Regions from separate parts of the Homo sapiens genome. Here all the other regions are linked to region 7. Evidence: fine-mapped expression QTL. Tissue or cell type: whole blood. Region 7 holds a variant in brackets; each other region holds the start of a gene. Each region is shown on its reference strand, or each on the opposite one.

Region 1 (4,077 bases), not on the chromosome of region 7:
CAGGAGGTGTTGGGGCCACTGGGAGAGGACTTATAAGGGCAGAAAGAGCCAAGAGAGGAGGGATATTGGGGAGAGTAGAAAGGCCAGCCAAAGAATGACTAAGGGGCTCCCGGTGTAAACAGGAGCAGGGAATGGACAGGGAGGGGGCCTGTTTGAGTTGGCCAAGGCTAGGGGTGGAGTGGGGAGGAGGACTGGGGCAGGACGCTATGTCCCCTGTCCCCCACCAAGGCTCCTGGGAGGAGCTGAGTCACACACCTCCTTCCCTGCACCCCTCCCCACCCCCACCCCTAATCTCCCAAATCCTGGGAAAATCTAAAGAGTTTGCCTAGACTGAGAAAGGAGAGTGTTTGGTTCACACACGTGTTTTGCTGGGCTAAAAAGCAATCAGGCCTCAGCCCTTCTCCTCCCAAAGGGGGTTCCCAGCCCATGGCTTGAGTAGCTCTCACCTAAAGGTTGCCTTTTTGGCAATGCTGGGCTTAAAGATCCTGACCCAGAGATTCCCTGGGTTCCTCACCTAAGAAAGGGTCAGGACTTGCAGATGTGAGAATGGGATACGGGCCAGCATTGCCCCACAGTCTGGCCAGCCAGCCTCTCCCTTGGGCTGCAGCTGGCTCTGGAGGGGGGCTTTTAAAAAAGCAGATGGGTGATTTGGGACAGGAAGTGGAGTAGCAGAGTGAGGGGGAGAGTCATGGCAGGAAAAAAACATTGACTCTGGGCACTCTTATTCTGAGCCTTTCAGCCCGAAGTGGGGCAGGGGACTGGAGAACAGAAGGGACAGGGTTGACAGGATATTATTGACAGGGTATTATTCTGGAAAGTGAGGAGTCCTGGAGGAAAGAGACTGAAAGGACTTGTAGTCCCCTCCCCCAGACTAAGATAAAGGCTAGAATCCTGAAAAGTGATCTCATCACACAGAGCCTGAGCTTGGGGAAGAGGTGGGCAGGGGGTCACTGCCTTCCCTTTCTAGAGTCCCTTCCTCTACTTCCACAGGGGAATCTGGGAAGAATGGGGTCCTGGCTTTCCGCTCCCATTGTTTTTTTGGTTTTTGGTTTTTGGATTTTTTTTTTTTTTTTTTTTTTGGATACAGTCTTGCTCTGTCACCCAGGCTAGAGTGCAGTGGTGCAATCGCGGCTCATTGCAGTCTCTGCCTCCTGGGTTCAAGTAATTATCCTGCCTCAGCTTCCCGAGTAGCTGGGATTACAGGTGCGGACCACCACATCTGGATAATTTTTGTATTTTTAGTGGAGATGGGTTTTGCCATGTTGGCCAGGCTGGTCTTGAACTCCTGGCCTCAGGTGATCTGCTCACCTCGGCATCCCAAAGTGCTGGGATTACAGGTGTGAGCCACCGTGCCTGGCCAGAGCTCCCAGCGTTTACAGCCATTAGGAGCTGAAGGTTGGGTCCCTTTGCAAGACTTTCCACCACCACCACCACCTCTCACAATTCTCCAGGTTTGTAGGAACCCGGCCAGTTTAATCAAGCAGGTACTGAGGGGCCAGCCACTCGCAGGCTTTTGGTCAACTGTCAGATCCAAGGAAGGGGCTCAGCAGAGGTTTACATACCCTAGGACCAAGAAGGGGGCAAACTGGAGCAGAATCCTCCTGATGAATGACCCCAAACTCCTGGGTTTTCAATACTAGCAAGCTTGGAGGAGGAAGCAGCGGAACTTGAGGAGCCCGTGTAGGTCCTCTAGCAAGCTGACTGCGAACGCTGTCTCTGTACCTCAACTGTTGTGTCCCAAATCCAGCTGGCCAGAACCCAGGCACCCGGCGGCCCCGGAAGGCAAGGGGGAATCCCAGTTGGCCGGACGCCAGAGGAGTCTCCTGTCTCTTTAGACCCCAAAGTCTCCTCCCTAAAGCACTGAGGGAGACCCCACACACATATACAGGCTTCCTCCGCCCACCAGAGGTGATTCCTTTCCTCATTAGGAAATTCTCCGCTCCCTTTTCCGACTCGTTTTCCGAGCGTTTACGTTGTACATCTGGAAAGGAATGGGGAGGAAGGAGGGGGAAGCAGAGAGGAGGGGGAAGAACCCAAACCCGCCCAGTCTAACCCAGTCCAGACAACCGGCTTCCAGCTGGGGCTGGGGAAAGGGGGTTGGAGGGGTGCGCCCCCCCCCCACGCCCCTTAGGGGTGGGGGACGCGGGCTCAGAGTTCCAGGGACCCAGGAATGCCCCCCCGCCAGCCCCCTCGGCAGGCGGGGGGAGGGCTCAGCCGGGAGTTTGGCAAACTCCTCCCCGCGTTGAGTCATTCGCCTCTGGGAGGTTTAGGAAGCGGCTCCGGGTCGGTGGCCCCAGGACAGGGAAGAGCGGGCGCTATGGGGAGCCGGACGCCAGAGTCCCCTCTCCACGCCGTGCAGCTGCGCTGGGGCCCCCGGCGCCGACCCCCGCTGCTGCCGCTGCTGTTGCTGCTGCTGCCGCCGCCACCCAGGGTCGGGGGCTTCAACTTAGACGCGGAGGCCCCAGCAGTACTCTCGGGGCCCCCGGGCTCCTTCTTCGGATTCTCAGTGGAGTTTTACCGGCCGGGAACAGACGGGTGAGTGAGGAGGGCTGGAGACGGGATGGGGGTGGGGGAGCCGCCTGGAGACTGGGGGCGCGGCTGGGGTCTGGAGGGGACCAGGGCTTAAGTTTGAGGGTGGAGTTTGTAAGGAATAGAGCTGCAGTTGGGGGCCCTGGCTAGAGTTGGGGGCCCGCGCTGGAGTAGGGAGGGCACCGTGGCGGGTGAGGAGGGGCCCTGGCGTTTGAGATCAGTGGGGAGACATGTGTCCGGTGGGGAGAGGACACGGAGCTGGAGAAGTCTGGGCAGGGGTCTCCGGGCCAAGGGAGAGGAGAGCGCGTGAATGGAGAGCTGAGGGTCTCTGGCTGAAGTCTGTGGGCTGCTGGGACCTGGGGCGGGTGGGGGCGCAGAGGGGGCGCAGAGGCCGGGAAGGGCTTTTGGGGGCTCCAGGAGACCTCGGGATCCGTAGGGGCCATTGTGCGGCGAGAGAACGGGTAGAAGCCGAATGAGCTACGTGTAGTAGGAGGAAAGTCAAAGACTGAGGGGGTCGGAAGGTTAAATGGGGGCCAGCCTCATCCTCCCCTCCCCCCTCAACTCAGACCGGGGAAAGACCCGAGAGAGGACGGCGGCTCCCTCTCCTTTCTCCTCTGTCTCCTACTCCTCCCTCCGCCCCCAATCTCTGTTCAGGCGAGGGGATCCGAGAACTGGGGGCGAGTGCGGGGACCCTGGCACTGGGGCCCTGGGGCTGGGGGCGAACTCAGCCAAGGGCGGGTGCTGGGATGTGTCGGGAGGGGTGTGTGCGCGCGTGAAGGGGGGTGGGCGGTTTCCCTCTTCCTCTGGCTCTTGGGAGGAAGAGAAAAGCTGGTTTCCTGTAGCTGGTCGGCTGGAGCTGTGCTGAGACCGGGACTTCTGGGGCTGGGGTCGGAAGCTGGGGAGACGGGGGCTCCGTGGGGCCAAGAACGTCAGAATGAAGGACTCAGGACCCTGGAAATCTCAAAGGAGGATCCTTATTCCCAACTCAGCACAGTGATAAGCAGACCCGGACCCCGAGTGCCTAGAAAATGGGGTACTGACAGGCTTGGGAAACAGGAGTTAGAGTGGAAGCAACATTAGAACCAAGGGTGTCTGTTTAAATGTGGGATGGCGGGGAGATTGGGAAGCAAGAGAGGTAGGTGGTTGCTCCTGGGCTAGGCCATAGATGCCAGATTCCTGGTCCTCCACAATGACTGGTGTAATCCTTTTTCTTCTACATCTCTGAGCTGGGAGCTTCCTACTGCTCACCCCCACCCCAACCCCAGGATCTCAGGGTTTGAGGGGAATTCTGTCAGAAGCGACCTGTTTTTACACATGAGACAGTTAACTGATCTCTACTCAGTCCCTATAGTTTTTGGAGAAAAGGGGTTAATCTAGCTAATACAACTGGGGAGAAAGGCAAATTCTCCTTTGTCTGGAGGACTTGGGGATGGGAGAAAAGAAAAATGATTAGGCCCCGACTGTTGTTCTGGGCTATTCAAGGTCCCCACCCAACCCCCACCCCACCCCCCTGGCCTTTTGCCCAAACCCCATTGCATCATCACCCTG
Region 2 (4,077 bases), not on the chromosome of region 7:
CTTTGTTCAAAGCACATTTTCAAGGATAGCCTTATGTTATCAGAGAACAGAGTATGTCTGTAATGGATACAGATATTAACACATACTTTACTGCCCATAAAACAAGTGTTCCTGAAGAACTTCTGTTTTAACAGCTGACCAAATTATTACATTTGAATTTGCAGAATTCCTCTGCCTCCCTGAGAGCAGAGGAAATTAGGCATTGCCTTCCTATCTTTCTTGTGCTTCTTTTTGTTAATTAAAAGCAAAATAAAAATTTTAAAGTGGGCCCTGGAGTTTCATTAGGGTTTATAAAAAAAAAATAAAAAAATAAAAAAAAAAGAAGGGCTGGTGTGATGGCTCATGCCTGTAATCCCAGCACTTTGGGAGGCTGAGGTTGGGAGAAAATATTGAAGCCAGGAGTTTGAGACCAGCCTGGGCAACACAACGAGACCCCATCTATACAGAAAATAAAAACATTAGTTGTGTGGTGGTGTGTGCCTGTAGTCCCAGCTACTTGGGGACGCTAAGGTGGGAAAATCACTTGAGCCCAGGAGTTTGAGGCTGCAATGAGCTATGATCAGACCACTGCACTCCAGCCCAGGTGACAGCAAGACTCTGTCTCTTTAAAACAAAACAAACAAAAAAACAGGTTTGGAAGCTACTGGGCTAGAGAGTGACAGGGATGCCAGACAAGGGTATGGGGAAGGCCTCTGTGAGGAGGGGCAACATTTGTTATCCATCTTCTCGAGGGCCAGGATTTTTGTCTGTCCTATTCTCTGCTCTAATGCTAAGAACCGCATCTGGCATCCAGTAGGTGCTCAATAAATGTTGAATAAATTTATCAAACACAGAGCACCTACTATATGCCAGGCACTGTTCTAAAGACTTTCCAAAAGCTTAACTCCTGGCCGGGCACGGTGACTCACGCCTGTAATCCTAGCACTTTGGGAGGCCAAGGCAGGTGGATAACCTGAGGTCAGGAGTTCGAGACCAGCCTGGCCAACATGGTGAAACCCTGTCTCCACTAAAAATACAAAAATTAGCTGGACATGGTGGTACACGGCTGTAATCCCAGCTACTCAGGAGGCTGAGGCAGGAGAATTGGTTGAAATCGGGAGGCAGAGGTTGCAGTGAGCCGAGATCGTGACACTGCACGCCAGCCTGGGCGACGGAGTGAGACTCCATCTCGACAAAACAAACAAAAGCTTAACTCGCAATCTTTGCAACACACCCTACCTATGTTGTAGGTGCTGTCTGTGAGCACATTTTACAGAGGGGAAACAGGCTCCAGAAGGGGGGTGTTATCTGCCTGAGGGTTCTCTGATGGAATATGGCCCAGCTTATTCCCTCCTAATCACCCCAGACCCTGGTGTTGTCCCCAGCTGGGCCCATGGAACAATGGATAGACCCCATTCCCCTCCTGAATCCCTCCCCAGGCTCCTGCCACTTCCCTTTCTCACTTCCCTTGTGCTGACCTCCCCGACCACAAGCTGACCACAGGGAACCTCTCAGGAAAGGAGGGCCGAGGTTAAGGGAGGGTGGAAGGTGGAGCAACTGACTCGATGCTCCCTCCACCCCCACGAGCAGGAACATACTGAGCACCGCACACTCACTTCACCCTGGTTCAACACCCCCACGAGGTTGACCCCGTCATTATGTTAGAGATTATGCATTTTCCACATAGGGAAACTGAGGCTCAGGGGTGTTAAGTGACTCACCCAAGGTCACACGGCTAGGAAGTTGCTGCACGCTCCTATGCTCCATTTCCTCTGGGTGAGAATTTGTCCTAGGAGCTTCTATTGAACACTGTGAGGTTGCTGGGAGGAGCGCGAGGTGCTGGGGATATAGTAACAAACAGAACAAGACCAAGAGTAAGACAGGAAATGGGGAGGGGAGAGTAGAGAAGGAGGCAGAGGGGACAGGGTGGGGTCAAAGCAGGATGCCCTCCCAGTTCCTCCTGCCTCTAGGTTCCTCTTTCCCTGCTGATTCCAGGAGCCTATCAACCCAGATAAAGCGGGACCTCCTCTCTGGTAGAGGTGCAGGGGGCAGTACTCAACATGATCACAGAGGGAGCGCAGGCCCCTCGATTGTTGCTGCCGCCGCTGCTCCTGCTGCTCACCCTGCCAGCCACAGGTGAGGGGGTGAGGGCCCAGCTGGCCCCAGGGGTGTCCAGGCCCACCACATCCCTGACCGAGCCCCACCCACCCATCCCCTGGCCCTGTTACAGGCTCAGACCCCGTGCTCTGCTTCACCCAGTATGAAGAATCCTCCGGCAAGTGCAAGGGCCTCCTGGGGGGTGGTGTCAGCGTGGAAGACTGCTGTCTCAACACTGCCTTTGCCTACCAGAAACGTAGTGGTGGGCTCTGTCAGCCTTGCAGGTTAGGGGGAGCCTGGGGTGGGGGATGGGGGGGAGGGAAGGACTGTCTGTGGGGGTCACCCAAAACTGGGCACTTTCTTTCTCTGGGACTTCCAAGGGTGGCCCTGAGGCCCTGATCGTGACCATACCTCAGGGTTTCTCAACCTTGTTACTATTGACATTTGGGGCTGGAAATTCTTGGCTGGGGGAGGGGATTGCTTACCTGTGTATTGTGGGATGTTTTGTAACACCCCTAGCCTTCCACTAGATGCCAGTAGCAATTCTCCCCACCAGCTGTGACAACCAAACATGTCAGCAGACATTGCCAAATGTCCCCTGGGGGTCAAAATCACCCCTGATTGAGAACCACTGACATAGCTCACACATATTGAGCACCTCCTGCACACTGGAAGCATTGCAGGTGGGGTGCAGCTTGGTATTTCCCTAATTTTGATGACAGCTCATGTTTATTGAGTGCTTACTGTATATGGACACACTGTGGGGGCGGGAAAGTTTGGGGAATTCAAAGGGCAGCTCTAGGCCCCTAATTATGATGACACTTCACATTCATTGAGCACTCCCTGTATACCAGCTGCATGGCAGGGTTGGGAGATGAGCTTGAGGATTTCTGAGGGTAGCTCTAGTCTCCTGATCATGATTTCCAGCTTGCATGGATTGAGCCCTTACCGTATGCCAGACCTGTTTTCTACTTGTTTACTATATATCCCAGATACACCGTGGGCATGGGGAGCTTGGGGATTTTTGAGGGCAGCTCTGGGCCCCAAGTCATGTCAACAGTTCATCACATCTATTTGGCATGAACAGCATACCTAGGGCTATGCAGTGGGTTGGGGATAGATCTGGGGTTATTTCTGAGGAGGCCTCTGAGGTCATAGGGATGATGGCTCAGGTTTATTAAGCACTTTCTATTTACCTACTACCGTGTAGTGTGGTGATCTGGTGGGTTTCTGACAGCAGCCCTTGGTTTCTAGTCCTTACCTTTGCTTACTGCGGACCTGGTGTTGGCCATGCAGCCTTCCAATGGTAACTCCAGATGCCTGATTGTGAAGGTAAATGACATTATCAAGCACTTATTGTATATCCACTGCTTCCCATCAGTATCCCAATATCCCTAAAAGGTAAGGACTTATCAATCCATCGCACACGCACTTGCCTAGCAACCCTTCGTGTCTGCCCACACTCTGGAGTCCCACATGCCATTCTTGTTAGCTCATGCCAGGATGGGATGTGTGTGCTCTTCTCCACAGGTCCCCACGATGGTCCCTGTGGTCCACATGGGCCCCCTGTTCGGTGACGTGCTCTGAGGGCTCCCAGCTGCGGTACCGGCGCTGTGTGGGCTGGAATGGGCAGTGCTCTGGAAAGGTGGCACCTGGGACCCTGGAGTGGCAGCTCCAGGCCTGTGAGGACCAGCAGTGCTGTCCTGGTGAGGAGGATGAGCAAGGCGGGCAAGCACTCCCTGTCACCCAGCACTGGTGGGAACGATCGGTACAGAGGTCCTCAGAGTGGGCCCGTCCCCAGTGTTTGTAAGGACCTAAGGAGGAGAGTGGTGGGAGGTGAGGTCAGAGAGGTGAGGAGGGTCCATTGCCTGGGGGCCACAGAGAGGACGTTGGCTTTTCATCTGAGTAATTTGGACTGTGGGCAGAGGAGGAACGTGATCTGACTGGGGTTGGGAGGAGAACAGACTGTGCACGGTGAGGGTGAGAGGGGAAGCGGAGGCA
Region 3 (4,000 bases), not on the chromosome of region 7:
CCAAGAGAATACATTTCTATGTAAATTAGCAATCAGGAATTTATCTGTTTTTGGGCTTCTTCATCTATCTAAAGTGTATATTTAGTGACCAGAATTATAGTCATCCTATAGTGAAAAAATAGCATACAAAATCAAAGTTTAATGAGTAAATCATGACATTATGCCATACTAAGAAGACATCAAACGTCTAAAACCATAGGAAGAGAATATATTAGCCCTTACAGAACTTAAATTTTTAGAAATTCTGAATAAGGAAATATATTCTGCACAGATAACGGTATGACACACCCAGTGTTCTAATACAGTACAACTTAAATAGCATCCTAGGGTAAAGAGTAACATATTCCCCAAGAAACAGAACTAAAATATTTCCTATTTTATGAGAAGAGTGAGTAAGAACAACAGGATACCTCCCTCAACAGCACACTAATAAAACATTATTTCCATACGAAATCCACAGCCTTTTCGGTAAGACTTTAAGGAATGTATGATAGAAATACAATAGTTATCTTCAATTCAATATTCATTGAAAGACTAATAACCAGTGATTCTTTGCTCACAATATGGTCAATTGCCAAAGGGTTCAATAACTTATCAGGTAAAATAACAGTAAATAGTGGAAATACTATATTAGTACTTCATTAGCTGAGCTGTAAACTTCAGGGAGAAGCGTAGGCTTTCCCCCACACTCTTCAAAGTAGGGAATCCATGTAGAAAATGGAAAAAAACCAACCCTTCCTTCTTATTCTTACTGGGTCCAGGGATCTCCAGAAAACTGCTCCGCTGAAGACTGGGCAATTTTATGATGCATGGTCTTTTTTGTTACTCAGTTTTTCTTGTTTCCACTGTTGAGAAAAGAGTTATATTAGTATAACCAATTCCCACACTCTTGTATGCTACATTTGGTTTTCAAAAGCGTTTGGTGGGGGAAAAAAATCAATAAAAGCAAAGAGCAGACAAAAAATAGATGTCAGTAATGAGCTCTGTGTAATTGTTCAGGCATGTAAGATTGGTGATAAAGGTTTACCCAGAACATTCCAGAAAAAAAGTTTCCTTATTCTTCTTAACAACCTTATAATTCTAAGCATAGTCTAAATCCTACAGAGAGAATAAGGACATTGTGAAGTATATGCTTTCCATAGAAGATATTAAAACACCACAAAGATCAAAGGGACAAATACCTGTCCAAAATTTTCTGGATGACTTTCTTTAGAAAAGGGGCTTCCGGGTCCAGACAAACTTGCTTCCCGTTCTTCAGGGAGGCTCTGAAGTAAAGAAAAAGAGGATGCACCCATGAGCCACAAAGGTTGACGACCCAGGCTGGAGGACTTGCCTAAGTCACAGTGGACACAGCAACACAGGAGAACTTACACCACTTCCACCTTGGAGCACTGCGGGCCTGCGGGGAACACCTGCAGTTTACCAATCGTTTTGGGGTTTACTCTCAGCGTAACGCGTAAACAAGTGCAACGCAGCTCTGTCAGCACAGCAGAGACAGGACCAGCTGGGGAAGAAAGACATTTTTATAGGGCAGGTTGCTGGGAGAGTTCCCTGGAACGCAGCGGCCCCGCAGAGGCTGGGATGCACCCCAGTGCCAGGAGCTCTCACCGCTGGCGAGGGGCCCCGGCGGCGTCAGCAGGAGCAGCAGCGCGAGCAGCGCGCACAAGGAGCCCGAAGGACCCGGGACACGGGCCGCGCGGCTGGACGGGAGGCTCATAGTGGTCAAGAGAGGGTTCGCGGGTTCCTGAGCTGGGTGGAGGCGCGGAGACTGGAGGATACAGAGCACTTTGGTTTCCTCGTGCCTTCTGCACTCCCTTTATCTGCATTCATCCCTCCCGACTGGCAGGAAACTCAAGCTTTGGGATGCTGGGGAAATTCCCTGAACTCAGGGGGCAGTGTGGAAAGAAGGGGTTGGTGGAGGGGGGCGGGAGGATGGGAATTGGTGGGGTGGGTGGCTGGGAGGAGCTGCCTGCTCCCTTAAGGGGGAGGACATTTTAGCCCCGCCCCGCGGTGGAGGGAGCTGTGGCTCCAGCCAAAATAGAGCAGCGATTCAGCAGGGTCTCATCCCCTGGGCTTGAGGGGTTAGCGAGGCTGGCTTCTCTGAGGCACGCAGCTGTCTGGGAGATGCTCCTCCTCTCCAATGGCCAGGACAATTAGGCAGGAGAAGGAAATAAAGGGTATTCAATTAGGAAAAGAGGAAGTCAAATTGTCCCTATTTGCAAATTACATAATTGTATATCTAGAAAACCCCATGGTCTCAGCCCAAAATCTCCTTAAGCTGATAAGCAACTTCAGCAAAGTCTCAGGATACAAAATCAATGCACAAAAATCACAAGCATTCTTATACACCAATAACAAACAAACAGAGACATGGTCTCAGCCCAAAATCTCCTTAAGCTGATAAGCAACTTCAGCAAAGTCTCAGGATACAAAATCAATGCACAAAAATCACAAGCATTCTTATACACCAATAACAAACAAACAGAGAGCCAAATCATGAGTGAACTCCCATTCACAATTGCTTCAAAGAGAATAAAATACCTAGGAATCCAACTTACAAGGGACATGAAGGACCTCTTCAAGGAGAACTACAAACCACTGCTCAATGAAATAAAAGAGGATACAAACAAATGGAAGAATATTCCATGCTCATGGGTAGGAAAAATCAATATCGTGAATATGGCCATACTGCCCAAGGTAACTTATAGATTCAATACCATCCCCATCAAGCTACCAATGACTTTCTTCACAGAATTGGAAAAAACTACTTGAAAGTTCATATGGAACCAAAAAAGAGCCCGCATGGCCAAGTCAATCCTAAGCCAAAAGAACCAAGCTGGAGGCATCACGCTACCTGACTTCAAACTATACTACAAGGCTACAGTAACCAAAACAGCATGGTACTGGTACCAAAACAGAGATATAGATCAATGGAACAGAACAGAGCCCTCAGAAATAATGCCGCATATCTACAACTATCTGATCTTTGACAAACCTGAGAAAAACAAGCAATAGGGAAAGGATTCCCTATTTAATAAATGGTGCTGGGAAAACTGGCTAGCCATATGTAGAAAGCTGAAACTGGATCCCTTCCTTACACCTTATACAAAAATTAATTCAAGATGGATTAAAGACTTAAACGTTAGACCTGAAACCATAAAAACCCTAGAAGAAAACCTAGGCATTACCCATTCAGGACATAGGCATGGGCAAGGTCTTCATGTATAAAACACCAAAAGCAATGGCAACAAAAGCCAAAATTGACAAATGGGATCTAATTAAACTCAAGAGCTTCTGCACAGCAAAAGAAACTACCATCAGAGTGAACAGGCAACCTACAAAATGGGAGAAAATTTTCGCGACCTACTCATCTGACAAAGGGCTAATATCCAGAACCTACAATGAACTCAAACAAATTTACAACAAAAAAACAAACAACCCCATCAAAAAGTGGATGAAGGACATGAACAGACACTTCTCAAGACATTTATGCAGCCAAAAAACACATGAAACAATGCTCACCATCACTGGCCATCAGAGAAATGCAAATCAAAACCACAATGAGATACCATCTCACACCAGTTAGAATGGCAATCATTAAAAAGTCAGGAAACAACAGGTGCTGGAGAGGATGTGGAGAAATGGGAACACTTTTACACTGTTGGTGGGACTGTAAACTAGTTCAACCAGTGTGGAAGTCAGTGTGGCGATTCCTCAGGGATCTAGAACTACAAATACCATTTGACCCAGCCGTCCCATTACTGGGTATATACCCAAAGGACTATAAATCATGCTGCTATAAAGACACATGCACACGAATGTTTATTGCAGCACTATTCACAATAGCAAAGACTTGGAACCAACCCAAATGTCCAACAATGATAGACTGGATTAAGAAAATGTGGCACATATACACCATGGAATACTATGCAGCCATAAAAAAGGATGAGTTCATGTCCTTTGTAGGGACGTGGATGAAATTGGAAATCATCATTCTCAG
Region 4 (4,077 bases), not on the chromosome of region 7:
AGTCTTAATCATTAAAGTGAACAAGATACCCATTCACTTTATCTGCATTTTTTTTTTCTTCATGATGAAAATGCCAGTTCAATACTGGCTTGGAAAACCGATTTTCACCTTACCTTAACCAAGTCAGAGTACCTCTAGATAATGGAGCGGAATTTTAAAGTTACTTCTCATTTTGGTACAAATTTGTGTTAAAAGGTATTCAAGCTGCTGGATTTACTGAGTTTTATCATATTGAACGTGAGAAAATCCAGAGGCTAGTTTCTTGAGATAAAAGGATTTTCTGTGACCGATGCTGGACACATGCAAAGCTTTCAAAATTTGGTTCCATCTGTTCACATGTCCATACATATTCTCTGCTTAATTTCATATGTCTTGAAAATCCCACTTTCCTTTTAGAAAATTTCTTGTTACAAGTTGAAGTCTTCAAATTCACCATTCAAAAACATAACAGAGTCCAATAAAATTGCCAAATTGTTAACATTTATGCTCTTATCCAGCTCTAAGATAACAATGATCCAGGTTTGGCTGAATCTACCAGTTATTTAAGGTTGTTTTTTGAGCACATTAAAATGTATCATTAGAAATCCTTCCATAAAAATACTTTTTAAAAAGTCACTTTGCCTGCCTTTTTTTTTGTTTTCAAACGAATCCAGTCATATCTGTAAAACAAGTTTCCATCAGATCTCATTTTATAAGCAACATCCTCTTCTAAGCCACCTGAAACTGACTTTGAAGAGCTCTTCAAACCATTTCAAAAATTTGTTTGTTGGCTTGTGCTTTCTTGGGTTAATGCTTCTAGAGTCGTCTCCAAGTTTCAAATTTTGCATGGCTGCTTTTTTTTTTTTTTTTTTTTTTTTACTTCGCTTCAAGAGTCAGTCTTAAATCATGTAGGTTTTGCTTGAGGTTTGCTCGAGCAAGAGGACCTTAGGTTTGGTCTTATTTGCATTTTTACCATAACTAGGCCTACATTCTAAATAAGTAACTAAATGCCACCTATGAGTTTCATTAACTGTGGCTGCTTGCCACTTTTTAGTTCTGGTTAGGGTGGTGCTATTGTTTTCCTCAGGTTCATTAGAAACATCTTCCGTGACAGCTCTGACGCGGCACCGATTTCTGAGTGTCCAGTGTTTTCCCTACCATTATTTTCTTTGGTCTGAAGTTGACACTTAAACTGTCCAGTTTTAAACCTCCGATCCGTGTTCCCAAATGAAAACATGACTTTCATTACGAATTACACGTCAAGGGAGCAAACCAAGGCGCTCGGGGCGGCGAGAACCGCGACACAGCGCTTCGCCTGGACTGGTAAACAAACCGCCGCGCAGGCGCAATGGCAACAGGACGGTAACCTGGGTAGCCGCCAATGGGCTTTTTCGTAGAGTGAAAAGCGGAAAAGCCAAACAAAACGCTGGTTCCAAGGTGATAAACTGGCTGACTTCCTCTATTTTTACTTTTTTAAAAAATTTTGTTTCTGAAGAAGTAGTTGTGCGGCCTTCTGGGCCTCGCAGAGATCTTCTTCGTGGAATTCCTCGGCCCCAGAGAAATGCCGCTAGCCTGTCGGCTAGTTATATTAGCCTAATTTTTTGTCTTGATCTTTTTCATTTGACTGCAGCACTAATCCTAATCCACTGGGGCAGCAAAAAAAAAAAAAAAAAAAAAAAAAAAAAAAAAAAAGGGCGGGTGGGATCTCAACGCCACGGAAAACCTTCATACTAGCCGGCCATCACCAAACCACGCGAGATCTGCCTGAGGAGAAGCGCCACCCCGGGAGTGCACGTTTGCGCATGCGTCTGGCTCATCATTTTTAGCGCGCAAAAGTTTCAAAACTTTCCGCCTAGTGAGAGGCGGTCCGATTTGGCCCTTGGGGAGTGTCCGTCGCGTTGATCTGATGGATTCACGTACACAACACCACATTCTATGAGATTTTGCAGGCAAAAGTCCACAAGCTCGTATGGTCATCCCTTCTTTCCGTTTTTATATTGGCCGTGAACTCTGTGAGGGGAGGTTTCAGCGACTGAAGTAGTAAAGGAGTGGGAGCGGGAGAGCCGATTAATGAGGTTGTAGAATAAGAGAGAAATCTGAAGGGACAAAGGAGTTTTATTTATTTTTTGGCTGGTGACCAAGAGGATGTGAGTGTGAGCTAAGGTAATACAGTGGGAAGGAGAAGATGGGAAGATTTGAGAGATAAATGAAGGCAGTAGCTCTGTAGCCTACCTGGGAGGCCAGACTAGAAAGAAGTTGACAGTAGAGGACATTTTTCTTAAAAGAGTGTGAACTTATGCATGTTTGTAAACAGGCAGAAATGGCATGCATTTAGTACATGGTGTATATAAGGTGGAAATCGGGACGCCCCTAATGGAATGGAATGAGGAAGATTCTAAAAGCCACAGTCCTGAACACAGGCCGAGGTGGAATTGCGAAGAACAGTCGCGGTAACAGAAGTCAGGAATTTGGGAACTGTCTCGAGGGATCTGACCAATCTGACCTCTTTTTGTCTCTCAGGATATATGGGACACCTGCACCGGCATTGGATTTGGCCCCGCAACATCTTAAAGGTACCACCCAACACCTGAAGTGTCTGCCTCCTTCCGATGGAGCCTCCTGGCCCCTCCCACCTCTCACCAGCTTTACCCTTTAGCCAGAATGAAATGTGGATTTCATGGAATGAAATGGTGGCATTTAGCTACCACATTACTCAGATGTGTCACTGACACCTTACAGAAGTACATACTTCTAGCCTCTAGCCTCCCAGTTCACTAGATATTAGAGTCCATCTTGATATCGGCAGCAATTCTATGCCACTTAGCTACTATAATTTGATTCTTTGTATACTATCTGGAGTACAAGGCAGAAGAATGCTGATGGAATACGTAATTTTACTCCAACAAAGGAATGGCTGATAGGTAAAGAGTATCACTTCATCTGTAAGAAAAACTAAATATGGAAAGCCACAGGATTGAAGCTAGCAGTGATGGAGAAGGATCCCAGTGTGAATATATAGAATGGAAGTACTTCAGTAAAGAGCCAGGCATGGTAATCACTTACCAAGAAAGTGACTTCATTTCATTTTGGCAGCCTAAAGTATATCCTGGCAGCTGCGCTGTATGTGTGAAGTGCATAGGAAAATGCTGCAGGAAAAATCCATGGAGGCAATGGAATAGGATTTCAGGGTTGAAGCCTGGGTGTCTTGTTTTAGGGAGTGGGATCATCCAGCTCTGAGAGGCATGACATCTCGATATGATGTCATATAAAGTGTGTACAATTGGGAATCAGACCTGGGCTTTGACTTTAGGGTCTGCCAGTCACTCTGTGTGTCCTGTCTGAATCTCAGTTTCTCAATTTATAAAATAAGGATAATAGTGCCTGTGCCATAGGATTATTGTAATGACAAAATGAGGTAGCATAGAACTTAGTGTAAAGTACATGCCACCTATCAGTTGAATTGTGGATGCTCTGTGCATCGTAGGTCCGTCTGTATTTAGGGAGCTTTAAGACAGGTACTCTACCGGGTCAGGCGCGGTAGCTCACGCCTGTAATCTCAGCACTTTGGGAGGCTGAGGCGGTCGGATCACAACGTCAGGAGATCGAGACCATCCTGGCAAATACGGTGAAACCCCGTCTCTACTAAAAAAAAAAAAATACAAAAAATTAGCCGGGCGTGGTGGTGGGCACCTGTAGACCCAGCTACTCCAGAGGCTGAGGCAGGAGAATGGCGTGAACCCGGGAGGCAGAGCTTGCAGTGAACCGAGATCACGCCACTGCACTCCAGCCTGGGCGACAGAGCGAGACTCCGTCTCAAAAAAAAAAAAAAAAAAAAAAAAAAAAGACAGGTACTCTACCATGCCCACACATTAGAATCACCTTGGGAGCTTAAAAAAATCCTAATGCCCTGGCTTTTCTCTATACCAATTAAATCAGAATCTCTGCGAGTGGAGCCCAGACATCAGTACTTTCTTAAAACCCTCCATTTTGCAACAAAGGTTGAGAGCCACTGCTTTAAGAGTTCCCTCTAGGGCCAGGCACGGTGGCTCACGTCTGTAATCCCAGCACTTTGGGAGGCGGAGGCGGGGGGATCACGAG
Region 5 (4,077 bases), not on the chromosome of region 7:
GGAGCAGAGCTTGGTGAAGTCAGTGGGGTCAGCTGGTGAATGAGCAAAGTGCTCTGTGAATCCTGGGTGGCCGTTTGCATCCAGTGGAGAGCATCATTCAGTGGAGACAGGGTGGGTTTGGGAAGCAATGTGACCATGTCCTCACTTCCCCTCTTCCCCCAGCCTATTCCAATCAGCCTTTCCTTCCCGTTACTCCACTGAAATGGCCCTCATCAAGGTCTCCCATGACCTACAAGAGCCCAATCTCTGCCCTCATCTCTCTTGACTCTGTGACATTTGACTTTTGCTTCCTTTTGGAAATGCTTTCTTTTCTTGGCTATTGTGATACCGCATTTTCTTGGTTTTCTTCCAAAGCTGTATCTACAGCCCTGACCTCTCTACTGAATTCCCAACTCATATAGTCAGCTGCCAACGCGAGATATATCCCAAATCTGATCATTTTTTACTGTGACCATGTCTGCAACCCTAATTTAAGTTACTAGCTCAACCCCTGGATTTCCACAATAGAGCCCAATCTGATCTCTACTTCCTGGGTCACACATCTCCTTAGTCAATTTTCCATATAGCTGCCAGAAATGTTCCTTTTTAAAACAGTGGATCAATATAATCACCTTCTATTATTAGCTTGAAACATTCCAGTAACTGCCCACTGCAAGGAGAATAAAGTCACTTTTCTGATGGCCTGAAAGATCTCATAACTGGTCTTCTTCATCCCTCTGACTTCCTCTCCTCCCAGTCCCTCCACTGGCCACTGGATCTCCTAGCACTGACCTCCCTGTGACCCCCAAACAGCCAGGACCACTCCTGCCCCAGGGCCTTTGCACCCACTCTGTACCTCAATCCCCATCGCTGGCTCCCCATTGCTCAGGCCTCAGTCCAGAAGTCACCTCCTCCGAAAAGCCTTCTCTGACTGCCCCTAAAGTAATTGCCCCATTCCATCGCCTCCTCTGCAATGGCCCCACTTCAGTGTTCTTCAGGGCATTTCTAAGATCTGAAATTCTTTATTTACTTACATCATCTGTGTCCTTTCATGAGAACATGAACTCTCCGAGTCAGAAGCTTTATCTGTTTAGGTTACAACTGTGCCCTCTAAAGCCTAGAGAGAGTCCAGCGCACAGAAGCCTCTGAATAATCTATGTTGGAGAGATGCTGCATGGGTTAATGCTTGAATGACTCCTGACTTCACTGCTCCTTATGGTGTTAAGGGACAAGGACTTACTTCTCCATCAAGCACAGCTTGCTCAGGGCCAAGGGCTCACTGCACTTTTAGGAACTCACAAAAGTCTTTTCTTTCTAATTTCTTTTAAAATCAGAAGAAAAAATATAATAATAATGAAAATGTAATAATGAATCCAGCCTGGTTTACATTCATCCTTATAACAATGCAGTCATGAAATACAATATTTTAATATTTTGGGGGGGACAAGTCAGTCCTTCTGATCCTCAGCTTTCTCTGAACCATAATCCCAGCTCACAGGGCCCCTGGGGAGAATTAGACAACGTGACGTGTAAGCGTCAGCTGTGAGGGGTAATGTGGGGCTATAGCTCCAGGGTGGAGGGTTTACAGTGTGCAAGGGCATCCTAGAGCCATGAGACCTACAGGGCTCTCTGGGTGTTGGGAGATACCTCTTTCGCTTCTTATAACACTGCAAGAGACAGACAGGGTGGCTCTCACTGTGTCCATTTGAAGGCTAAAGAAACTGCAGCTCAGACCAGTTCAGCAACTCTCCTACATCGTGTGGCTAAAGCTAAGAATTGTGACCCATTTTTCTGAATCCAGGTCCCCGCGATGCCCTGGGTTCAGACCCTAACACCCTCCCGTCCCTGAGTGCTGGGGATTTAAGGCAGCAGTGCCTCCTTTCAGGAAATCACACACACACTGGAAACTCCTGCATACTCCTCTTACTATAATCTGTCACCAAAGACTGGATATTCCTGTGCTGGGGCTCGTGCCAGCGCCTCGGGCTGCCAGGTGCTGCTTTCCAACTCCCACATGGGCTGCCCTCCCCCTACTGCTACCCACAGGGCCCCCACTCCACCTGCTCCCAGACGAGGCCAACTCCTGGCCAAGCTTAGGGGCACAGCGGAGGCGCTCTGTTTCTGATTTTTCTCGCCTTCCTTGGAGATGCCTGTGCTTGGAAGGGAAGGCAGAACATTGCATCTTGGAACAAATCTGCTTTTGATCATGCAAATGAATGCCTGGATAATGTAGGCAGACTGTCAATTTCACCAGTTAGAAAGAAAGAGAAAAGGGGGAGAAATTCCCCATGACAGCGACTGATGAAGAATTTCAATAGAAAGCTGCTACTTCAGAAAATAAGATCATTTGCTGCGAATGGAGAACATCTCAGGCAGCCCTGATGCTCCACCGGTAGGTTGCTAACTTTGCTGTCATTGGGACCCCCTGGGTGGGCCATAGGTGGCCTGGGGTGGTATGTGGGGGAGGGTCTTCAGAGGGACTTGATGGATCCTGTACCCACCCTCCGTCTTTGGTCTGAAGAAAATGGGTGGGTCTCTGCTGGTGGTGAGTAGCTCCAGGGGGCAGGACTTGGGGTAAGAGGCTCCACTCCTGTCCCTCCGTGACTTCCCTGGGAAGCTGCACTGCATGTGTTTGTGGACTGGGATCCAGCTGATACTTATGCAGCGTTGGCATGAGTAGAGAGCATGCATTTGTGTTTACTACAATTTGGAAAATTGGTCTCAGGTCAGCTGAGGTGGTTCAGAGATTGGACGTTCTTTGTATTCCTGCTTTCTGTGTATAATTATCTGAAGAAGGGATAACAGCTTTGGACACTAATCTTAATATTAAAATTAAAAAATTAAGGGAAAAGAACGAACATTTATTGAAGCCAAACTATTTTCCAGATATTGTTGTGTATTTGAATTTTTGAACATCTTTATGAGGATATTTACTAATCATCTCCCAACTTCACAGATAGGGAAACTGAGGCTCAGACTCTGGGTAACTTGGATGCTCGTGATTGCAATCCAAGGACACCCAGGACACTCTCCCTGCTGTGTTGACACATGACCAAGGGAGCGGGGTCCTGGTCAGTTCCTGGCCATTGTGTCACTCCAGCTGACAGTGCTGCTATGGGGCCCAATGGCACCTGATCTCCACCTCCTGAGGTCTTGGAATAGATGTCCATCTCTCCATATAGTATGTATCAATGGTGTTTCAGTTGTTTGCCTTGTCTGTTATCATCTGACTGCAAGCCCTTCTGAGGGGAGGAATTCAATTTGTATTTTATGCTGAAACACCTGGCCCAGCATGACTAAACAAACAGGTGTTGGTGTTACAAAAACATGCTGGACACCCTGTTTAGGTGGATGTGGCAATTTACTGCAATTGATATGTCCTGTTTCTCAGCCCCAGATGGGGCAGGAGGGGCTGGGTGGGTATCAAAGGACAGAGGATGGAGTAAAAGGCATGGCTGAGATTGAGGCCCTCCAGAACCTGCCATCTTCAGGTCCTCCTTGGCTGATGGTGGTTGGACCCAGGTGCCATGGAGCCTTCTTGGGGCAAACAGAGAAATGCACAAGCCCAACTCTAAATTCAGGTTGGGAGTGGGCTGAGGCAAGGGAGGGCAATACAAGGGCACATTGGGTTGAAGTCCAGAGGAGTTTCCTCACTGTTGGGAGGGTGGGAGCATAGCTCATAACTCAGTTTCCACTTGGTTGTCCACTGTGCCCTCTTGCAGTTCTGTGTGGGGTAGAATCCTGAGGATCTCTCTAGGTGATGCTTGCGTATGGTGGGGGTAAGGTGGTGATAGCGCATCCCTGACCTAGTGTTTATCACAGATAGGGTAATGGGTAGAGCCTGCCACCCGCCACCCTCCCCACTCCTGCCCTGCAATTGGGGTCAGAGACCTGCAGTGGAGACTTGGCTTTCCAAAGGACTAGTTAGCTGACCTAGAGACACCCGGTAAACCTCACTAAGCCTTTCTTTCCCAGAAAAAAAATCGTGTTAAATACTGGTTCATGGTTCCCTACCTCACAGCCATACAGTTGAGATAACGTAAAGTAAGAGCATGAGTTACTTCACTTAGGCTAACCCCTAAGGCTATTGAAATTTTA
Region 6 (4,077 bases), not on the chromosome of region 7:
ACTTAAACCCATTATCTTATTCAAACGCTTAAAACCCCTGAAGTCAGAATGACAACACCTGTTTTGCAAATGGGACAGGAAGTGACTTACCCAAGACCACACAGCTACAAAGCACCAGAACTGCAAAGCATTTCTCTTTCTACTTTCTAGCTGCTTAGTAGGTTTCCAATGTCCAACCCTACAAATAAAAGTTTCCACATTCTGCTTTTTCTCTTTCTTCTCCCAGGGGCCCGGTGGAGAGGCTGCAAGGTGCCCCTCGACCCTCTAAGACAGCTCAGCCAGTCCCTGCTGCAAAGGGCACACGCTGGCTCCTCTCTGTGCAGAGGACACCTTCACCCCTCACTCCGCCGCTTTGAGGATGGAGCACCTAACTTGGGAGAGGAGGTTTCAGCCTGCGTGGACCCCAAGAACCATCCGAGGGGTGGTTGGGCTGAGAACTGGCAGAGGGGGTCTTCCGGTGATGGGGTCTGGGGTTGCAAAGAAGGTGCCTCCAGGATCGGATCCCTGTGCCCAGCCGCTTGAAGCGCCTTTAGCTTCTTATCAAATATTAACATGCCTTTCCTGCCACCTCCCACCTAGAGGAATAATTAAGAGCTCGGCTTCACCATTAATCTTTAAACGAAAATCACCCTGTCCGGAAAGACCGGCTCCGCAGAGGCCTTGGGGCTCCGGGTCCCCCACCCCCCGCCCCCGCCAGGCTCCCAATTCAGCGCTGGAGGTTAGGGAGGCCAGGGGAGCTTGCGACCCTCAGGGGCAAGGAACCCGTGTGGGAAGCGCGGCTTCCAGGACCCTGCCAGACCGCCCTTGCTCTGGCCGCGGGGCAGTCACCCAGCGCTGAGTCCCAGCGGGACGGACGGAAACCCACGGGCAGACGGAGGAGGCTGGGTGAGAAAAGAAGGCGTGCGTTGAGGCGGGTCCGAGAAGCATCCTTTTTTTTTTTTTTTTTTTTTTTTTTTTTTTTTTTTAAACGGAGCACCAGGCTGGAGTGCAGTGGCGTGATCTCACTGCAACCTCCACCTCCTGGGTTCAAGCGATTCTCGGGCCTCAGCCTCCCGAGTAGCTGGGATTACAGGCGTGTGCCACCACGTCCGGCTAATGTTTGTATTTTTGGTAGAGATGGGATTTCACCATGTTGGCCATGCTGGTCTCGAACTCCTGGGCTCAGGTGATCCACCCGCCTCTGCCTCCCAACGTGCTGGCATTTCAGGCTGGAGCACCCGCGCCCGGCCTGAGACGCATCCTTATCAGGGACTCCCAACTCGTCTCGCCGGGCCACGCGCACACACCCTCACCGCGCACACCCGTGCACACGCTCCCCCAGCCGGTGCTGACACGCGTGTGCACACACAAGCTCGCGCGCTGCCCAGTCCTCCCGCACCCTCGCGGCCCCCGGCGCACACGCAACCCGGGACCCCAGCGCCACCGACGCTCACCGGTCGCCCGCGGGGGGATCCTCTGCAGGGGCGGGAGCTGGGGGCACGGAGGGGACCGCCGAGGGGCACCTGGGGCCGGAGCCCGGGAGCTCACCTGCACTGGCCGATGGCCGCGCCGCGGAGAGGGCCAGGAGCGCCAGCAGCATCCGCATCTTGCGGGACAGCAAAGAGTCCTCTGAGCCGGGGGTCGCGCACCGAGGAGGCCGCCGCGGGTGCAGCGATCCTGCCGGCCTGGGTTTTATAGCGGAGCCGCGACGGGAGGGAGCCCCGACAGCTGGACGCGGGAGGCGGCTCCTCCCCCTGGCGGGGCCTGCCCTCCCCTCTCCACCTTCCCCTGTCCCTCATCTGAAATCCTCCGCTCTCCCCGGTCCCCCGCCCTGCCTGGCCACCTCTTGCCCTGTGCGCAAGGCCCCCTCACCCACTCCGCGTCCTCTCCACTCAGCAGCGGCGCCCTGCCCCTCCCCCATCCTACTCCTGGTCCCTGGTTTGGGAACAGGGACACGACACCACAAAGTGCTTGACCCACACAAAGATGAGTGCCCCATGATGACTTTGATCATTCTGGCGCCACCCCTGCGCAGTGGTCTTGAATGGGACCTTGGAATGGCCTTGGGGTGGGGGTGGGGGTGGGGGTGGAGATGGCCTCGAAGAGATGAGAGGCTGAGGGGCGTGTGATGCCGTTTGTTGAATCAGTGGCCGCAGAAAGGCTCTCCTATCTCTCTTTGGCAGTGGCCATTGATTCTCTGGGTCTCATCTCTTCTATTTCCTCCCAGGCTGCTCCAAACTTAATTTCTAAGCAGACCAAAGACCTTTCTTCGAATACAGAGCAAAGCTGTCCCTAAACTACTGCCCTTGCTGGTGTTTATGTGATGACCAGGGAGGGTTGATGGGGCAGAATTAAGAAATGGATTGTAAGAGGATTCGGTGAGGGAGAAGCTGATGGGGTCAAAGGGGAGGAGCTAGGTTCTTTGAGCCCCCCAGGTGGAGAGATGAGATGGGAAGAGAAGAGACTGGGGTCTGAATGGACCCCTGGTTCTCCCATCTGGCAAGACCTCCAGAGGAGTCCAGGGGAAGTTCCCTTAAGGGCGGCTCCAACATTTGGGGAAATGGGGTCCCCCCCATGCCCCCAAGCTGCCTCTTGTCTCCTCTCTTAGCTGTGCCCTCCTGCTACTGCAGGTCCTCTGTGTCCCACATGGGGTGGGGGCTTCTGTGGGAGTTTGGGAAGCTCAGGCTGGGGTGCGGGAGAGGGACGGGGAACCAGGCAGTGGACCTGGACCTCCTCCATCAATCCATCAACAGGAAGCCCCCTTTTTCTGGTTTAGCCACTCCCCATCCGCTGCCAACCTCTCAGTCCCTACCGACCTTCGAACCTGGGCTAGGGACTTCTGAAGGGGGATTGCCTCCCCCAGAAGGATTCAGGCAAAGATGCTTCCTCCTTGCTTAGGGTTGAGGCTGACTCCCCGCTCCTGGCCCAGGATCACACAGCCTCACAGAGCAGCTTTGATCCTACAGAGAGGCAGGAGGGAGGTGAGGGGGTGTCCATGCCAGGCTTAGGGCTCTATTGTCAACACCACTGTATAATGTAATCACCAGCCTGCGACCATGACAGCCACAGGAGGGATTCCACACCCAGAGCCTATTCTGGGGAGTGCATTTGTGTTCACAGGGCTATAAAAATGTCCCTTTCAGGACTGAGGAAGCCTGTTCCTGGGAATAAAAACCACCCCCAGGGAGTCCCTGTGACCTCTGGCCAGCCCCCTGATGAGCAGGGGAGAGGCTTGGGAAACTTTGGTGGGGTTAAGGGACTGTTGATCAATGATCCACTTTAAAGTTCATTGCATTCAGGCCCCCCAGGAGAGAGGGGGGCCCTGGGTGCATTTTGGGACCATAAAGATGGGTGAGGAGAACGAGTCCCTGGTAGGGCATCCCCTCTGAGGAATGCGGGAGGGGTAAAGCTATACACTCTCTTATGGGTGCATCTTAATTATGGGCACCACAGAGCCTGCACATTGGCGATGGGGTGGTGGACTGGTTCCTGCTCCATCTGCCATCTCTAACTTCAAGGTTACACAGGGTGAGTGGCCCTCTCTTCCTGTTCCTGGTCTTAACATTCTCAGCCTTATCTCCAGCCCTGACCCCAGTCCTGGCCTGCCATAAACCAGTCACCTGTCACTATTTAGACTACCTGGGGCCCTGCTTACCTGTAGGGGACAAGGCCTGATTTAGGGTCGTTAGAGCTGGAATGAGTGCTGACATGTCCCAGCGACTTACAGGGCCCATAAAGCTGCCAGCCCAGGCCACCTGAGTGGGAGAGCCCAGCCCAGCAGCCCCAGCCTCCTTCCTCTTACTCTGCAGAGGCCCCCAGTGTTCTGAGTTCAAGTCTTTGCTCTTCTTCTGACTCACGGATGACCTTGGGCAACTTTCCTGCACCCGGCTGATTGCAACTTCCTCATCTATAAACTGGAGATGGTAATCCCTGCCCGGCTGACCTCCACCAATAAACAGTTATTTGGAGTCTGCTGTGAACCAGGGCCTGCCCAGCCCAGACTCTCACAACCGGCCTCTCAGTGCCTGGGTGTAGCCACTGGCCCATGGCGGATGCAAAGATTAATCACACTCTTGTCCTCTGGGGATGTTTGCACGC
Region 7 (4,077 bases):
ACTCTGTTCTTTCTCTTCAGGTTGGTTGGCTATTCAAGGTCCCTTGTAATTTCATGTGGGTTTCAGGATTGACTGTTCATTTTCTACAAAAAAGATTGATGAAATTTTGATAGGGATTGAGTCTATAGATCATCTTGGGGAGTATTTTCATTTTAATGGTATTAAATCTCTCAATCCATGAACATAGTATGTCTTCCTATTTATTGATGTCTCTTTTTTTAAATTAAGGTTTTGTGATTTTTCAGCATGGAAATATTGGTTCTTCTTTGTTAACTTTATTTCTATGTATTTTATTCTTTTGAATGGTATTGTAAATGAAATTTTTAAAACAACGTTCAAATTGTTTATTGCTCATGTATAGATTTGCAACTGATTTTTGCATATTGGTGTCATATCCTACAACCTTGCTGAACACATTTATTAATTCTATTTTTTTAGTGTGCTCTGTAGCATATTCTATATATAAGATCATGTCATCTGGAAATAAATATAGTTCTACTTCTTCTTTTCCAGTCGAAAAGCCTTTTATTTCCTTTGCCTGACTAATTTCTCTGGCTGGAACTTCCAGTACAATGTGGAATAGAAGCAGTGAGAATGAATATCTTTGTCTTATTCCTGATCTTAGGGGAAAACAATAAGTCATTTTCTATTAAATTAGCTGTGGATGTTTCATAGATGTCTTTTATTAGGCTCAGGAAATTTCCATTTTTTTCATAGCTTTTTGAGTGTTTTTATCATGAAGGGGGTTAGATTTTTGTCAAATGTCTTTTCTGCATTAATTTAGAGGATCATATGGTTTTATCATTTATTCTGTTGATATGTTATTTTACATTAATTAATTTTCAGATATTAAACCAACCTTGAATTCCTGGAATAAGTTCCACTTGGTATGCATACACATGGTATACAGTTTGTGTTATATGTTACTGGATTTGGCTTGCTAGTATTTTGTTGAAGGTTTTTATATCTATATTAATATGATATATTGATTTGTTTTCTTGTGATATCTTTGGTATCAATAGGAAGTTAAGAATTTATAAGCGGCAAGGAGTAGGGGCAGATTGGAAGTATTCCAAGTCTCCTAACTAACTAGGGAAAATGTTTCAAGTCACACAACAGTGCAAAAAGAGCAAGAAAGAGTATACTATGTTTTCTGTTTATCTTTGACACTTACATTTAGGGCTTCCTTAATCTATTTTATCCCATTTGTGAGCTTACTTATTGAATTGGCTAAAGAGACAGGAACAAAGCTTTATAGCCATGAGAGAACTGCTGTAATCTTGGTATCATGGATGGAATGTGCCTTTGAATAGACTTGATTTCTCTTACCTCTTTGTTTCTCTATATTTAAGGGATGAGCTATGAAAAGCCTATTAAAAATAACATGAGCCAGTCTCATTATGCTTGGCTGAACTTAGATTCCAGTAAATGTTTGTGGATTCCTTTTCTAATCACTACATTAACTGGAATTAATAACTGAGAAACAAAATACTACTACTCCCAATTTTTTTTAAGTTGTGAGTGTATGGCATTATTCATTTCATCTCCTCCCAGCAACTTGTGTTTATGCACACACACACACACACACACTCCCCTGCCCCATGCAGGTATGAATATGTGTGTATATGCATCTCTGTGCTTATATGATTAAACATGACTCTACTTTTGAACATTCAGTGAAAATTAAGAAATAATTCATACAGATGATATAGGATGGCTTAAGCCTAAAGCTATCATTCTGGGTTAAAAGTAAAATAGTACATGCAAATGAATTTCCTATCATAAGTTTCTTATTTCCAATTTTCACAGCAGCTCTGACATAGGTTTGAGGGCTGACATTTCATCCTTGGCTGTGCAAAGTTCCCAGATCATGACGGTTTGTTGCTGGGAGTCCAGAGCAGAACTGGAGGAAAGGTGCTTCCACTGCTTCTTCCCAGAGAGGGAGGGGCTGGGAGCTCCTTGCCACAGGCTGACCTCTGTCCCCTCCCTTGTTGAGCTGGTGGTTGCCCAGT[C/T]CCTGCAAGTGTTACCTCATTTCCTCTATTTGGAGGTCCTCCTCTACCTCTTCCCTAATTCATCTCCATGACGTGTCTCAAACTTTTTTGCATGAAGTTGTCACTAATTCACTTCACTCACTCGGATCACTCCTTTGGGCTCCTCTATCTTGAGATAGGTCAGATGCCATTTACAGAAGAAACTCCATCTCCAGCCACGTAATGAAGTAAAGAGATAGTCATAGGTGGTGCTTAGTCTCCCCACTGGGGTAAGAAAATGGAGGCTGGAGGAACCCACAGGGCAAGGATGCTGTCAGGGCAGGGGAGGCTGGGCACAAGTGTCCAAGAGCACAACAATCTCAATCTTGTTCAGGGAAAGTTGTCAGCTGTGGGAGTGGAAGTGGGGTAGGCAGGTGGTGATGGGATCCCAGTGGTAGATGGAGTGTAGACCCTGAGCATATTGGCTAAATGATGCCAAGCAGTATGGAACCACTTAAAAAAATGGTTCTTGGAGCCTTGCCACCTGGTAGGGTGTTCAGAAGCTGGACTTCAATATTGAAAGCAAGGCATTTGGAGGACTAAATGGAGACAGAAAAGGGCACTTAAAGTCCTTTCCATAGACTAGGGCATGCACAGGACAGGGAGAGTTGGTAATTGAGGCACAGAACAGGAGCTCCCTGGTTAGCCACGTAATAAGAGTGATGATATTAGGTTCTGCCTGTTGAATAGAGAGAAGGGGATGGTTGCAAAAGTTTAAGTAATTGCAACCTCAGTCAAAACAGATTCAGGAACTAACTGTGGGAGAGGCAGTGAGCATGTGGGTATGGGTGATCCCTTAACTGAATTGTAAGAAAGTAGTGGGAGAGATCCAGGGTGAGGAGGTTACAGTGCCATGCCAGGAAAGGAGACCTGCTGATTGGGCCACTCGGTAGTTAGGTGAGTAAGCCAGGTCAAGGGCTTACAATTTTTCAGAATAGAGAGGATCAATTTTGTAAGGGCATCTTGAAGTGATCACATTCTCAGAAACAAGCCCATGGTAGTCAAACTCACATGATGCCAAATTATAATCCAAAAATAATCCTTTTGTGAATTTACCATAAGAATCATTTCTTTCTATTGATATTGACATATGTGACCCAGGGTACCACTTCCAAATCAGTAACTATTAGGATATGATTGGAGCACAGGATGGTGAAAACTCCCAGAACACTTCTAGGTACTATTCAGGTCTCTTTAATGCCAGTGTGGGCCCAGTCCCAAATTTGACAAGCATCACTCATGGCTTTCTTCTCCTCCCTTTTCTAATTCAGATTCTTTCTACCACCACCCTCTCCTCAGGTCTGTCTCTATCATTGATGGCACTACTCTTTCTTCATTTGATTTATGTGTGGTCTTATTCTCTCTTGCTTTGATTTAGGAGATACTGCTTTTCTAAAGACCACCACAGAATGCCACTTTCTGCATTGCTTGAAAATTCTGGTAACTGAACTTAGAAGCTCATCTTAGGTGTAAGAACAAACTCTTTTAACTTCTCTCTGTGGGCCAAACAGGCAAAATGAGACAGCCTGTGTCCTTCCAACATTTTAGATCCTTAGTCATTCTGATGAATGAGTGGATGGAGAGATGGACGAAGAGCTCACAAACTCAGAAACAACCAGAGGTGTAACATCTACTAGTCTTTTTGTCTTTCATGAAATCTCACCTTCTCATTATTTTCCTTATCTGTTTGATTATCACAATTGAGCACTTATTCCTAAGCACTATTGCTTATTATGCCTCTTAGGGTTTCTACTCCAGAGACACACAGCCTCTTCCTGACCTGGGAATGTACCACCACTTGGTGCTGAATTGTGACCCCAAAGTGCTCAAGGACCCTCCCCAGGAAGGCAGAACACATGCTTAAACCTGGGACTCTTGAGAAAATGCACATTCTGATTCTGTACATCTGAAGTGGGGCACGAGGATCTGATTTCTACCAAGTTTCCAGGTGGCACAGGTGCCACTTGTTCCTGGACCTTGAGTAACAAGGCCCAAGTGGTAAAATCAAGGGCTTGGAGCTTAACTCTCCTGAGTTGGAATCCCATTT

The links. PIP is the estimated chance that this variant, and not a neighbour inherited with it, causes the effect. A credible set is the group of variants that fine-mapping cannot tell apart.
Region 1: ITGA5 starts here. The variant in region 7 is fine-mapped to the expression of ITGA5 in whole blood (TOPMed, PIP 0.99).
Region 2: CFP starts here. The variant in region 7 is the best candidate, but not a certain one, in a credible set for the expression of CFP in whole blood (TOPMed, PIP 0.57).
Region 3: it holds the start of CXCL6, and the variant in region 7 is fine-mapped to the expression of CXCL6 in whole blood (TOPMed, PIP 0.97).
Region 4: it holds the start of GPR19, and the variant in region 7 is the best candidate, but not a certain one, in a credible set for the expression of GPR19 in whole blood (TOPMed, PIP 0.60).
Region 5: it holds the start of SLA, and the variant in region 7 is the best candidate, but not a certain one, in a credible set for the expression of SLA in whole blood (TOPMed, PIP 0.51).
Region 6: CA4 starts here. The variant in region 7 is the best candidate, but not a certain one, in a credible set for the expression of CA4 in whole blood (TOPMed, PIP 0.52).

Annotation. Positions count from the first base shown.
Region 1 is chr12:54,417,439-54,421,515 of GRCh38, reverse strand. ITGA5 (integrin subunit alpha 5) reads left to right here and starts at 2,250. Exons shown (of 30, transcript NM_002205.5): 1 at 2,250-2,535. The coding sequence starts at 2,318. All of the region lies in intron 2 of GPR84-AS1 (GPR84, ZNF385A, ITGA5 and GTSF1 antisense RNA 1), which reads right to left.
Region 2 is chrX:47,627,807-47,631,883 of GRCh38, reverse strand. It overlaps CFP (complement factor properdin), which reads left to right and starts at 1,954. Exons shown (of 9, transcript NM_001145252.3): 1 at 1,954-2,115; 2 at 2,210-2,360; 3 at 3,607-3,782. The coding sequence starts at 2,040.
Region 3 is chr4:73,834,468-73,838,467 of GRCh38, reverse strand. CXCL6 (C-X-C motif chemokine ligand 6) reads right to left here and starts at 1,790. Exons shown (of 4, transcript NM_002993.4): 1 at 1,609-1,790; 2 at 1,372-1,504; 3 at 1,182-1,265; 4 at 1-845. The coding sequence starts at 1,717. The coding sequence ends at 827. RefSeq lists a silencer at 1,522-1,816.
Region 4 is chr12:12,693,934-12,698,010 of GRCh38, reverse strand. GPR19 (G protein-coupled receptor 19) reads left to right here and starts at 1,828. Exons shown (of 4, transcript NM_006143.3): 1 at 1,828-1,946; 2 at 2,500-2,552. RefSeq lists enhancers at 1,661-1,740, 1,921-2,080.
Region 5 is chr8:133,100,847-133,104,923 of GRCh38, reverse strand. SLA (Src like adaptor) reads left to right here and starts at 2,322. Exons shown (of 9, transcript NM_001045556.3): 1 at 2,322-2,371. All of the region lies in intron 43 of TG (thyroglobulin), which reads right to left.
Region 6 is chr17:60,147,543-60,151,619 of GRCh38, reverse strand. CA4 (carbonic anhydrase 4) reads right to left here and starts at 1,647. Exons shown (of 8, transcript NM_000717.5): 1 at 1,528-1,647. The coding sequence starts at 1,585.
Region 7 is chr7:50,219,154-50,223,230 of GRCh38, reverse strand. No RefSeq gene overlaps it. Among named protein-coding and RNA genes, the nearest start is that of IKZF1, 84 kb to the left of the region's middle. The variant C/T (reference allele first, on the strand shown) is at 2,013.